2 linked regions of the Homo sapiens genome follow. The protein of the gene in region 1 interacts with the protein of each later gene in a pairwise test. Each region holds a gene or a part of one and is shown in the gene's direction. Other genes may lie near its edges.

What was found.
Region 2: the proteins of CD4 (region 1) and CCR5 interact in binary tests that used the Homo sapiens proteins (3 or more experiments, as listed by UniProt).

The regions. Positions count from the first base shown.
Region 1 is NC_000012.12:6,813,522-6,820,543, forward strand, and holds part of CD4 (T-cell surface glycoprotein CD4 isoform 1 precursor), read left to right. Parts: intron 1-620; coding exon 621-779; exon of another isoform or gene 780-942; intron 943-1,237; coding exon 1,238-1,471; intron 1,472-2,209; exon of another isoform or gene 2,210-2,464; coding exon of another isoform or gene 2,465-2,534; coding exon 2,535-2,882; intron 2,883-3,608; coding exon 3,609-3,809; intron 3,810-4,899; coding exon 4,900-5,021; intron 5,022-5,325; coding exon 5,326-5,393; intron 5,394-5,777; coding exon 5,778-5,808; 3' UTR 5,809-7,022. UniProt on the Homo sapiens protein: Integral membrane glycoprotein that plays an essential role in the immune response and serves multiple functions in responses against both external and internal offenses.
Region 2 is NC_000003.12:46,366,665-46,373,960, forward strand, and holds the start of CCR5 (C-C chemokine receptor type 5), read left to right. Parts: upstream 1-4,281; 5' UTR 4,282-4,324; intron 4,325-4,579; exon of another isoform or gene 4,580-4,753; intron 4,754-6,227; 5' UTR 6,228-6,238; coding exon 6,239-7,296. UniProt on the Homo sapiens protein: Receptor for a number of inflammatory CC-chemokines including CCL3/MIP-1-alpha, CCL4/MIP-1-beta and RANTES and subsequently transduces a signal by increasing the intracellular calcium ion level.

The DNA.
Region 1 (7,022 bases):
TTTCTTAGATACGGGTCCAAATTAGTACACAAAGCACTTCCTCATTCCTCTCTTACGGCTGCATAGCAGTCCACTGAATGGGTGAGCTATGATCTATTTAACCTATTCTTTATTGATGGACATTTGGTTTTGTATATACATTTGTAATTCTGTATAGATTACAAATCACCATCCAAAGAAATTGTACTGGTTTATTCTCCTACAATGTGTGAGAGTTGGGTAATTACTTAATCTCAATATGTGAGAGTTTAGGCAGTTACCTAATCTCTCTGAGTCTCAGTTTCTCTATCTGCAAAATAAACAAAACAGTGTTGACAGTATCTATTTCTCGGAATTATTGTGGAGATTACTGAGATGATGCCTGTAAAGTATTTGGCATGTAGGAGTTGGTGCTCTCCAAATAAGGATATGATTTTATTTGTATTTGTGAGCTACTGTCCCAGCCAGGTAAATGGATATGATGAGACCTCCTTGCCAGACCGGGTTTCTCTGATTAGAACGAGGAGCAGATGTTGCAGGAAATTAGCAACTGATATCAGAAGAGCCGTGGGCATTCTCTTGCCAGAGGTGCCCTGTCTCCAGGGCGCCTCAGTCCCCCCCCATATGTCTTCTGCTCCCAGGTCCATCCAAGCTGAATGATCGCGCTGACTCAAGAAGAAGCCTTTGGGACCAAGGAAACTTTCCCCTGATCATCAAGAATCTTAAGATAGAAGACTCAGATACTTACATCTGTGAAGTGGAGGACCAGAAGGAGGAGGTGCAATTGCTAGTGTTCGGATGTGAGTGGGGCAGGTGGGGATGAGGATACCTCCTGCCTGGTTCCCTTCCCCACTACTCCCACCCCTGCACCAAATCCAGCCTGAGCTGGTGATACCGCAGCAGCCCCAAGAGGACCAGGCTGTCAAACTGGCCTCCAAATGTCTTAAAACCCTTCTTGATCAGGTGAGGGATGCTGGTGGGCGGAGGAGGGAAGAGGCCTTGGGAAAAGGAAAGAAAAGGGAAGGAGGCAAGGGAAGGAGGGAGAGAGACTGGGGAAGAGAGGATGAGGGGAGAGGAGGAAAGAAGAGAGAGAGGAGGGGAGAGGGAAACCCTATCTTGGCTGGGGGTGCGCAGCTGGGTGCTGGGAGGAAGGAGATGTTGGGACGGCGATAATGGAGAGATGTTGTTGGTTTCCTGTTGTCTGCCCTTCTCCTTGGGGATGGTATGTGTGTGACACAGCTGGCCTTTCCCTCCACAGTGACTGCCAACTCTGACACCCACCTGCTTCAGGGGCAGAGCCTGACCCTGACCTTGGAGAGCCCCCCTGGTAGTAGCCCCTCAGTGCAATGTAGGAGTCCAAGGGGTAAAAACATACAGGGGGGGAAGACCCTCTCCGTGTCTCAGCTGGAGCTCCAGGATAGTGGCACCTGGACATGCACTGTCTTGCAGAACCAGAAGAAGGTGGAGTTCAAAATAGACATCGTGGTGCTAGGTAAGGGAAGCCCCTCTTCGCGCAGTCTCCTCCCTGCCCCAGGGGCTGACAGCCCCTCCCTCTGCTCTGACTGCCCTGTTTCTGGTTCTGGTGCTGGGAGGTCAGGAGTGGAGAAGACTAGGTCCCCTAGAGCTGAGGCCTGTCTTGAAGGACTCACTGGGGCCCTCATCCTCAGGGGGCTGATTGGCAGCCACCCCTCAGTGTGGTGGACATGGAGAAAGGAAAGGCTGGGGAAGGTAAGGATGCTAGAGGCCCGAGTCTCCTTTGGAGGCCCCAAAGGAGGAATGTCAGGGAGCTTACTTTCTTTGTTGCCTCAGCTCCACACCCCTACCAAGTTGGCAAATCCACTTACTCAGGGACACTAACACCAGTAAGCCAACCCTGATGATGTTCTATGTTGTACCTCTGGACCTCTAAGCCAGGCCACTGTGGGGAGACCAAGGTCCTACCCCAGATCCTGTCCCCTGGGTGCTTATGTGACTTAAGGTAGACATAAGGTAGTGTGCCAGTTTAGTGCATGTACGCTGATTGAAATCCTGGTTCTGCCACAACCATGTGACCTTGGGTGAGTTACTAAACCTCTCTGCACCTTGGTTTCAGCCTCTGTGAAATGGGGATGATGTTAACTGCCATAGTGACTACCTCGTATTAAGTTGAGGACTGATATACGTAAGGCACTGAAAATGGTGCCTGGCACAGAGTAAGCCCTAGTTAAGTGTTCGCTGTTATTTTGTGAAGGGTGATGAATACGCCTCTAAGGAGTGGAGGCCAAATGGCTTCTGTGGTCCAGGAATCCTAAGGACAGCAAGGATCCCCTGTGGCTGGGCTGCTCTGTGATGGCTTCCGGGAGGAGGGAGGTGGCCTGCTGTAGGAAAATGCTGGGTGGAAGAAGGGAGAGAAGGCTGGAGAGGTAGGAAGGAACTGAAGTATCTGAAGTGACAAGGTGGGTGTCTGGACTCGTCGGGTCCCCTTCCATCTCCCTGCTGCCTCCACATGCCAACCCCACTCGTGCACCCTCATCTTCCTATCTCCTCACCCAGGGTCTCTCCCTTCCCACCTCCAGCTTTCCAGAAGGCCTCCAGCATAGTCTATAAGAAAGAGGGGGAACAGGTGGAGTTCTCCTTCCCACTCGCCTTTACAGTTGAAAAGCTGACGGGCAGTGGCGAGCTGTGGTGGCAGGCGGAGAGGGCTTCCTCCTCCAAGTCTTGGATCACCTTTGACCTGAAGAACAAGGAAGTGTCTGTAAAACGGGTTACCCAGGACCCTAAGCTCCAGATGGGCAAGAAGCTCCCGCTCCACCTCACCCTGCCCCAGGCCTTGCCTCAGTATGCTGGCTCTGGAAACCTCACCCTGGCCCTTGAAGCGAAAACAGGAAAGTTGCATCAGGAAGTGAACCTGGTGGTGATGAGAGGTGAGGGGCCAGGCCAGGGAGGGGTGGGCAGGGGAAGGAGTTGGAGGGGCCTGGCCCAGGGCTCCCTCTGAGGCAAGCCAGGCCCCAAGAGGGGATGCCTAGGCCCTGGTCACCTGGATGAAGTGAGGGAGGGCCCTCTGGGTTTGGGGCTGGTTTTGAACTGAGACATCCATGAGCCAGCCTGGGGCTGGCTTCACTGAAGATCCCCAAAGCACTTGGGCTAAGAACCAGGGTTCCAGTTCTTCCTATAACCAACCCTCTGTGACCCTGGCTAAGCCCCCTCCCACTGCAGGCCTGCTTCCTGACCTGTCTAATAAGGATAATGAAATCTGCTCTCTGTGTGATAGTAATGATGATAATGTCAAGCTCCAAATTGAGTTTCTGGCTTCCTTATCTCCTTATCATCATAACGACTCTGCAAATAGTAATGGCTAACACTTGATGCTCAGCACGTGTCGGGCCCCATCCAAACACTTTACATGTATGCCTGCCTTTAGTACTATCTGGGTGCAGGTTGTTAAGTCACTTGCCCAGAGACACACAGCTGCTAAGCAGTGGAGCTGGGATTCAAATCCAATACCACTGGACCCCAAACGCTGTTTTTCCTCGTAGGACTGCATGAAAACCTGCTCTAAAAGGCTAAAAGAAGGTCACCCATATAGAGTATCATTTTAATTGTTCTACTGAATCTCAGGCCTTTGATCTCAGCCTCTCGTTCCTCTGCAGCCACTCAGCTCCAGAAAAATTTGACCTGTGAGGTGTGGGGACCCACCTCCCCTAAGCTGATGCTGAGTTTGAAACTGGAGAACAAGGAGGCAAAGGTCTCGAAGCGGGAGAAGGCGGTGTGGGTGCTGAACCCTGAGGCGGGGATGTGGCAGTGTCTGCTGAGTGACTCGGGACAGGTCCTGCTGGAATCCAACATCAAGGGTAAGGACCCAGGTTCCAAGGCCTCTGCCTCCTGGGCTGCGGGACCTTCCTGTGGTTGGCAGAGACCACCCAGAGTCCCGGCCTCCCAATGCCTGAGTTGGGGGGTTATGGGTATGGTGTCCTCTGTGGTCCCAGGGTGCTTTGGAGGCCCCAAAAGGAGGCATAGAAGTGATGAAGTGAGGTGGGTTGTGGTCCTGGGCTCTAGGCTGCCAGTTGTAATTCTACAAGTTCCCACTCCCTCAGGTCTACAGCCTAGGGATGGGGTCCACCTGACCGAGAGCCCCCCTCCCTGGCTCCTGGCTTTTCTCCAAATCCAGACGCACTTACACACACACTCACACACATACACTCTCACACACATGCACACACTCCCATACACTCTCACACACGCACACACATCACTCACACACTCGCACACACTCATACACACACTACACACACATCCACACTCACACCCACACTCTCACCCCATGTACTCACACCCATGCACTCACACACTGTCACACACTCATACACACACATGTACTCACACATGCATGCACACACACACTTACACATTCACGCACATACTCTCACCCACACACTGTCGTACACGTACACTCACACACTTATACACTCACATCCGCACACGCATTATTCACACATGTGCACACACGCGCGCGCACATGCATGCAGTCACGCACACACATTCATACACGCACACAGGCACACATTCACACACATGCACACACGCACACACATTCACACATGGACTCACACGCGCACACGCGCGCACACACACACATTCACACCATTCACACACGCACACACATGCACACACTCACACATGCACACACACATGCACTCACACACACAGCCCAGGAGCCAGACCACAGCTTCTCTCTCTCCAGAGTGCCCTGGATATGGATATGCCCAAACATAAAACCGATTCCCCAGCACTGGCGGCCTTTGAGAGCCCCCAGGCACCCCTCCCCTCTCCCCCAACCCCAGGGTCAAACCAGAGACTGGCCAGGAGGGATTGCAGGGCAGTCCTCAGTCCCCTGGCCCGTGGAGGAGGGCGGTGCATTGAGCACATTTCTCTCCCTTGCAGTTCTGCCCACATGGTCCACCCCGGTGCAGCCAATGGCCCTGATTGTGCTGGGGGGCGTCGCCGGCCTCCTGCTTTTCATTGGGCTAGGCATCTTCTTCTGTGTCAGGTGCCGGCACCGAAGGGTGAGTAACCCCACACCTGGTCCCCACAAGGCCCTCAAACCCCTGAGTCCTCTACCAGGAGATCCTGTATATGGGAACTGATTTTGGCCCAGCTCCCTCTGCCCACTCGTAAGTTCCCTTGCTGCCCTGTCCCAGATCCCACTCAAGGGAGAGACAGGAAGGAGCAGAGAGTTAATTCCAGGATAGATGGCCTGGGCCATGTAACTGCTTCTCCTGTCGCAGCTTCCCCCACTCCCCCCACCAAGGGGCACCTCCCTTCTGGAGGCCTGGGACCCTCGTGACTCCCTTTCTTGTCCCTGGACAGCGCCAAGCAGAGCGGATGTCTCAGATCAAGAGACTCCTCAGTGAGAAGAAGACCTGCCAGTGTCCTCAGTAAGGATCTGGGAGGAGGGGTTGAGAGAGGGGAAAGGGGGAGGGGGAGGGAGTTAGAGAGGAGGGGGAGGAAGGGGAGCAAAGGGGGGCAGGAAGGGAGGATGGAGAGGAGGAAGGAGTTGAGGAGGAAGAGCTGGGAGGGGTGGAGGTGAGGAGATGGGGGCTAAAGGGGTGTGGTGGAGAGGATAGAGGGGTGGGAAAAGATGGCCAGGAGCTAGAAGGAGGCAGAAGTGGGAGGATGGAGCTGAAGGAGCAGCAGGCCAGGAAAGGCCCTGCTGGAAAGCCACTGGAGCTGTGCTGCGCTGGAAAGGCCATTGGAGGTGCTAGAACGCAAAGGGGTTGCAGTGGGGACAGACCTGCTCCCCTTCTTCTTTGTTCCTGCAGCCGGTTTCAGAAGACATGTAGCCCCATTTGAGGCACGAGGCCAGGCAGATCCCACTTGCAGCCTCCCCAGGTGTCTGCCCCGCGTTTCCTGCCTGCGGACCAGATGAATGTAGCAGATCCCCAGCCTCTGGCCTCCTGTTCGCCTCCTCTACAATTTGCCATTGTTTCTCCTGGGTTAGGCCCCGGCTTCACTGGTTGAGTGTTGCTCTCTAGTTTCCAGAGGCTTAATCACACCGTCCTCCACGCCATTTCCTTTTCCTTCAAGCCTAGCCCTTCTCTCATTATTTCTCTCTGACCCTCTCCCCACTGCTCATTTGGATCCCAGGGGAGTGTTCAGGGCCAGCCCTGGCTGGCATGGAGGGTGAGGCTGGGTGTCTGGAAGCATGGAGCATGGGACTGTTCTTTTACAAGACAGGACCCTGGGACCACAGAGGGCAGGAACTTGCACAAAATCACACAGCCAAGCCAGTCAAGGATGGATGCAGATCCAGAGGTTTCTGGCAGCCAGTACCTCCTGCCCCATGCTGCCCGCTTCTCACCCTATGTGGGTGGGACCACAGACTCACATCCTGACCTTGCACAAACAGCCCCTCTGGACACAGCCCCATGTACACGGCCTCAAGGGATGTCTCACATCCTCTGTCTATTTGAGACTTAGAAAAATCCTACAAGGCTGGCAGTGACAGAACTAAGATGATCATCTCCAGTTTATAGACCAGAACCAGAGCTCAGAGAGGCTAGATGATTGATTACCAAGTGCCGGACTAGCAAGTGCTGGAGTCGGGACTAACCCAGGTCCCTTGTCCCAAGTTCCACTGCTGCCTCTTGAATGCAGGGACAAATGCCACACGGCTCTCACCAGTGGCTAGTGGTGGGTACTCAATGTGTACTTTTGGGTTCACAGAAGCACAGCACCCATGGGAAGGGTCCATCTCAGAGAATTTACGAGCAGGGATGAAGGCCTCCCTGTCTAAAATCCCTCCTTCATCCCCCGCTGGTGGCAGAATCTGTTACCAGAGGACAAAGCCTTTGGCTCTTCTAATCAGAGCGCAAGCTGGGAGCACAGGCACTGCAGGAGAGAATGCCCAGTGACCAGTCACTGACCCTGTGCAGAACCTCCTGGAAGCGAGCTTTGCTGGGAGAGGGGGTAGCTAGCCTGAGAGGGAACCCTCTAAGGGACCTCAAAGGTGATTGTGCCAGGCTCTGCGCCTGCCCCACACCCTCCCTTACCCTCCTCCAGACCAT
Region 2 (7,296 bases), on another chromosome or scaffold:
ATGGAGACAACAGCATGGTGAGTTCCCAACCCACCCACGATGATAGGTGTCTGAGGCAGAAGGTAAAGAGGCTGTCACCTGGTGGGTGTCATAAGACTCAAGTGTCATTGTTGAGGCACATGGGTAACAAAGCGTGGCACTGGATGGGGGTAGATTCTTCCTATTTCTGTGAGGATCAGGGGGACTCCCTGGCTCTCCTGCTAAAGGTGGCTCTAGGGACAGGAAGAGTGTACTTCTTGACAGGGATGTCAGAGCACTGATGGTGACAATCAGTGTGACACTGCTCACATGACTGAACAACCGAGAAGAGCCCGACTGTCTACTGAACAACGGGAAGAGCCCGACTGTCAATGACGGAGCTCTGTTAAATATAGTTAAGGCTATTTTGTTGAATGAATGAAGCCAGACAGGAAAGAGGACAGTATCTTTAATCCATTTATAGAAGTTAAAGACAGGCTTATTTAATCTCTATGAAGACAGAGTGGCCCTTACCTCTGGGTGGAGCAAAAGGCACCTTCTGAAGTGATAGGGATGTTCCTTATCATCTTGATCCGGAGTGGTAGTTACATGCATGTGTGCATATCAAAACTCACCAAGCTGTACCACTAAGTGTGTTCTTCCTCAATAAAAATAATAAAGAACTACACTTATAAAGAATTTTTTAATAATATAGGAAAATGTCTACACTATAATCTTTAGCTAAAAAAAAAAAAAAAAGAAGCCGCCTACAGAATGGTATATGCATGAGAACAATTAATCGAAAAGTGCATGGGAAAAGTCAGGATTGAAACATCATGTTTTAAAAGACATTGTTTTGATACTGTGAGAATGTACCTAAGTTTTTCCTTTTTTCTGTTTTTCCCAATTTTATACAATGAGCATGTGTTGGTTTTATAATTAGACATTTTGTTTGTTTGGTTTGGTTTTGAGACACAGCTTGCTGTCACCCAGGTTGGAGTGCAATGGCCCAATCTTGGTTCACTGCAACCTCCATCTCCTGGGTTCAAGAGATTCTCCCACTTCAGCCTCCTGAGTAGCTGGGACTATAGGGGCGCACCACCACATCCAGCTAATTTTGTGTATTTTTAGTAGAGATGGGGTTTCACCATGCTGGCCAGGTTGGTCTCAAACTCCTGACCTCAAGTTATCCACTCGCCTTGGCTTCCCAAAGTGCTGGGATTATAGGCATGAGCCACCGCACTTGGCCTAGACATTTGTTTTTAAAAATAAAAGATTCATTTGCTCTTTTTACAGCCCGTCTCACTGTTGACTGATATTGACCAGGAGTCAACTCAGGCCCCAGGGATTTTCACAACAGCTGCTGTATGGCAGGGTTTCTGCTCACTGTGCTCATGTAGTTGGCCCTTGCACCCAAAGTGAATAATTAACATTCTCCCCATCCTGTTGACGATGCTCTGAAAATATGGTCCAGAAATGGTGTGAGCAAGGAGACAGCAAAGCAATGCTTGGAACATAGGTGCAGTGACTAGACATGGGGCAGCTGTTTAAAGACAAAAAGGCCCCAAAAAGGAGGGATGGCACGAAACACCCTCCAATATGGGCATGGAGTCTAGAGTGACAAAGTGATCAAAAGTTCATTTCCTATGGGGTGTCCGAATGTACTTAATAATAAAAAGAGAACAAGAGCCATGCAAACTGAGAGGGACAAAGTAGAAAGAGTAGCAGACACCAAGCAACTAAGTCACAGCATGATAAGCTGCTAGCTTGTTGTCATTATTGTATCCAGAACAACATTTCATTTAAATGCTGAAGAATTTCCCATGGGTCCCCACTTTCTTGTGAATCCTTGGGCTGAACCCCCCTGTCCTGAGTGGTTACTAGAACACACCTCTGGACCAGAAACACAAAAGTGGAGTAACGCACACTGCAAAGCTGTGCTTCCTTGTTTCAGCCTGTGAATCCTCACCTTGTTTCCCATCTAGCCTATATTTTTCAAACTAACTTGGCCATAGAATCATGTAGTATTTAGGGTGGAAGCTGCCCCAGGTCTAGCACGTCATTTAACAGATGAGGAAATGGAAGCTTGGGCAGTGGAAGTATCTTGCCGAGGTCACACAGCAAGTCAGCAGCACAGCGTGTGTGACTCCGAGCCTGCTCCGCTAGCCCACATTGCCCTCTGGGGGTGAGTATGTCTTCACATCCTCCAATACCCTAATGACAGACAAACAGAACATGGCAAAGCCTCAGCTCTGCATGGTGAAAGTAAGAACCAGCAATTGCCACAAACAGAAATACAGTGTTGGTCCGGCAGCCTCCGGGGGTTCTGCACAAGTGGATTACCAGTGAATACAAGGCTATCTATCTTTCGAAAAACCAAAGTTGTATTTATGCTATCTATTTTCTATAAAATTTTATATTAATTTATTTGTTACCTATTTTTGAACTCTTTCAAAAGCACACTTTATATTTCCCTGCTTAAACAGTCCCCCGAGGGTGGGTGCCCAAAAGGCTCTACACTTGTTATCATTCCCTCTCCACCACAGGCATATTGAGTAAGTTTGTATTTGGGTTTTTTTAAAACCTCCACTCTACAGTTAAGAAAACTAAGGCACAGAGCTTCAATAATTTGGTCAGAGCCAAGTAGCAGTAATGAAGCTGGAGGTTAAACCCAGCAGCATGACTGCAGTTCTTAATCAATGCCTTTTGAATTGCACATATGGGATGAACTAGAACATTTTCTCGATGATTCGCTGTCCTTGTTATGATTATGTTACTGAGCTCTGTTGTAGCACAGACATATGTCCCTATATGGGGCGGGGGTGGGGGTGTCTTGATCGCTGGGCTATTTCTATACTGTTCTGGCTTTTCCCAAGCAGTCATTTCTTTCTATTCTCCAAGCACCAGCAATTAGCTTTACCTTTTCAGCTTCTAGTTTGCTGAAACTAATCTGCTATAGACAGAGACTCCGGTGAACCAATTTTATTAGGATTTGATCAAATAAACTCTCTCTGACAAAGGACTGCTGAAAGAGTAACTAAGAGTTTGATGTTTACTGAGTGCATAGTATGTGCTAGATGCTGGCCGTGGATGCCTCATAGAATCCTCCCAACAACTCATGAAATGACTACTGTCATTCAGCCCAATACCCAGACGAGAAAGCTGAGGGTAAGACAGGTTTCAAGCTTGGCAGTCTGACTACAGAGGCCACTGGCTTAGCCCCTGGGTTAGTCTGCCTCTGTAGGATTGGGGGCACGTAATTTTGCTGTTTGGGGTCTCATTTGCCTTCTTAGAGATCACAAGCCAAAGCTTTTTATTCTAGAGCCAAGGTCACGGAAGCCCAGAGGGCATCTTGTGGCTCGGGAGTAGCTCTCTGCTGTCTTCTCAGCTCTGCTGACAATACTTGAGATTTTCAGATGTCACCAACCGCCAAGAGAGCTTGATATGACTGTATATAGTATAGTCATAAAGAACCTGAACTTGACCATATACTTATGTCATGTGGAAAATTTCTCATAGCTTCAGATAGATTATATCTGGAGTGAAGAATCCTGCCACCTATGTATCTGGCATAGTGTGAGTCCTCATAAATGCTTACTGGTTTGAAGGGCAACAAAATAGTGAACAGAGTGAAAATCCCCACTAAGATCCTGGGTCCAGAAAAAGATGGGAAACCTGTTTAGCTCACCCGTGAGCCCATAGTTAAAACTCTTTAGACAACAGGTTGTTTCCGTTTACAGAGAACAATAATATTGGGTGGTGAGCATCTGTGTGGGGGTTGGGGTGGGATAGGGGATACGGGGAGAGTGGAGAAAAAGGGGACACAGGGTTAATGTGAAGTCCAGGATCCCCCTCTACATTTAAAGTTGGTTTAAGTTGGCTTTAATTAATAGCAACTCTTAAGATAATCAGAATTTTCTTAACCTTTTAGCCTTACTGTTGAAAAGCCCTGTGATCTTGTACAAATCATTTGCTTCTTGGATAGTAATTTCTTTTACTAAAATGTGGGCTTTTGACTAGATGAATGTAAATGTTCTTCTAGCTCTGATATCCTTTATTCTTTATATTTTCTAACAGATTCTGTGTAGTGGGATGAGCAGAGAACAAAAACAAAATAATCCAGTGAGAAAAGCCCGTAAATAAACCTTCAGACCAGAGATCTATTCTCTAGCTTATTTTAAGCTCAACTTAAAAAGAAGAACTGTTCTCTGATTCTTTTCGCCTTCAATACACTTAATGATTTAACTCCACCCTCCTTCAAAAGAAACAGCATTTCCTACTTTTATACTGTCTATATGATTGATTTGCACAGCTCATCTGGCCAGAAGAGCTGAGACATCCGTTCCCCTACAAGAAACTCTCCCCGGTAAGTAACCTCTCAGCTGCTTGGCCTGTTAGTTAGCTTCTGAGATGAGTAAAAGACTTTACAGGAAACCCATAGAAGACATTTGGCAAACACCAAGTGCTCATACAATTATCTTAAAATATAATCTTTAAGATAAGGAAAGGGTCACAGTTTGGAATGAGTTTCAGACGGTTATAACATCAAAGATACAAAACATGATTGTGAGTGAAAGACTTTAAAGGGAGCAATAGTATTTTAATAACTAACAATCCTTACCTCTCAAAAGAAAGATTTGCAGAGAGATGAGTCTTAGCTGAAATCTTGAAATCTTATCTTCTGCTAAGGAGAACTAAACCCTCTCCAGTGAGATGCCTTCTGAATATGTGCCCACAAGAAGTTGTGTCTAAGTCTGGTTCTCTTTTTTCTTTTTCCTCCAGACAAGAGGGAAGCCTAAAAATGGTCAAAATTAATATTAAATTACAAACGCCAAATAAAATTTTCCTCTAATATATCAGTTTCATGGCACAGTTAGTATATAATTCTTTATGGTTCAAAATTAAAAATGAGCTTTTCTAGGGGCTTCTCTCAGCTGCCTAGTCTAAGGTGCAGGGAGTTTGAGACTCACAGGGTTTAATAAGAGAAAATTCTCAGCTAGAGCAGCTGAACTTAAATAGACTAGGCAAGACAGCTGGTTATAAGACTAAACTACCCAGAATGCATGACATTCATCTGTGGTGGCAGACGAAACATTTTTTATTATATTATTTCTTGGGTATGTATGACAACTCTTAATTGTGGCAACTCAGAAACTACAAACACAAACTTCACAGAAAATGTGAGGATTTTACAATTGGCTGTTGTCATCTATGACCTTCCCTGGGACTTGGGCACCCGGCCATTTCACTCTGACTACATCATGTCACCAAACATCTGATGGTCTTGCCTTTTAATTCTCTTTTCGAGGACTGAGAGGGAGGGTAGCATGGTAGTTAAGAGTGCAGGCTTCCCGCATTCAAAATCGGTTGCTTACTAGCTGTGTGGCTTTGAGCAAGTTACTCACCCTCTCTGTGCTTCAAGGTCCTTGTCTGCAAAATGTGAAAAATATTTCCTGCCTCATAAGGTTGCCCTAAGGATTAAATGAATGAATGGGTATGATGCTTAGAACAGTGATTGGCATCCAGTATGTGCCCTCGAGGCCTCTTAATTATTACTGGCTTGCTCATAGTGCATGTTCTTTGTGGGCTAACTCTAGCGTCAATAAAAATGTTAAGACTGAGTTGCAGCCGGGCATGGTGGCTCATGCCTGTAATCCCAGCATTCTAGGAGGCTGAGGCAGGAGGATCGCTTGAGCCCAGGAGTTCGAGACCAGCCTGGGCAACATAGTGTGATCTTGTATCTATAAAAATAAACAAAATTAGCTTGGTGTGGTGGCGCCTGTAGTCCCCAGCCACTTGGAGGGGTGAGGTGAGAGGATTGCTTGAGCCCGGGATGGTCCAGGCTGCAGTGAGCCATGATCGTGCCACTGCACTCCAGCCTGGGCGACAGAGTGAGACCCTGTCTCACAACAACAACAACAACAACAAAAAGGCTGAGCTGCACCATGCTTGACCCAGTTTCTTAAAATTGTTGTCAAAGCTTCATTCACTCCATGGTGCTATAGAGCACAAGATTTTATTTGGTGAGATGGTGCTTTCATGAATTCCCCCAACAGAGCCAAGCTCTCCATCTAGTGGACAGGGAAGCTAGCAGCAAACCTTCCCTTCACTACAAAACTTCATTGCTTGGCCAAAAAGAGAGTTAATTCAATGTAGACATCTATGTAGGCAATTAAAAACCTATTGATGTATAAAACAGTTTGCATTCATGGAGGGCAACTAAATACATTCTAGGACTTTATAAAAGATCACTTTTTATTTATGCACAGGGTGGAACAAGATGGATTATCAAGTGTCAAGTCCAATCTATGACATCAATTATTATACATCGGAGCCCTGCCAAAAAATCAATGTGAAGCAAATCGCAGCCCGCCTCCTGCCTCCGCTCTACTCACTGGTGTTCATCTTTGGTTTTGTGGGCAACATGCTGGTCATCCTCATCCTGATAAACTGCAAAAGGCTGAAGAGCATGACTGACATCTACCTGCTCAACCTGGCCATCTCTGACCTGTTTTTCCTTCTTACTGTCCCCTTCTGGGCTCACTATGCTGCCGCCCAGTGGGACTTTGGAAATACAATGTGTCAACTCTTGACAGGGCTCTATTTTATAGGCTTCTTCTCTGGAATCTTCTTCATCATCCTCCTGACAATCGATAGGTACCTGGCTGTCGTCCATGCTGTGTTTGCTTTAAAAGCCAGGACGGTCACCTTTGGGGTGGTGACAAGTGTGATCACTTGGGTGGTGGCTGTGTTTGCGTCTCTCCCAGGAATCATCTTTACCAGATCTCAAAAAGAAGGTCTTCATTACACCTGCAGCTCTCATTTTCCATACAGTCAGTATCAATTCTGGAAGAATTTCCAGACATTAAAGATAGTCATCTTGGGGCTGGTCCTGCCGCTGCTTGTCATGGTCATCTGCTACTCGGGAATCCTAAAAACTCTGCTTCGGTGTCGAAATGAGAAGAAGAGGCACAGGGCTGTGAGGCTTATCTTCACCATCATGATTGTTTATTTTCTCTTCTGGGCTCCCTACAACATTGTCCTTCTCCTGAACACCTTCCAGGAATTCTTTGGCCTGAATAATTGCAGTAGCTCTAACAGGTTGGACCAAGCTATGCAGGTGACAGAGACTCTTGGGATGACGCACTGCTGCATCAACCCCATCATCTATGCCTTTGTCGGGGAGAAGTTCAGAAACTACCTCTTAGTCTTCTTCCAAAAGCACATTGCCAAACGCTTCTGCAAATGCTGTTCTATTTTCCAGCAAGAGGCTCCCGAGCGAGCAAGCTCAGTTTACACCCGATCCACTGGGGAGCAGGAAATATCTGTGGGCTTGTG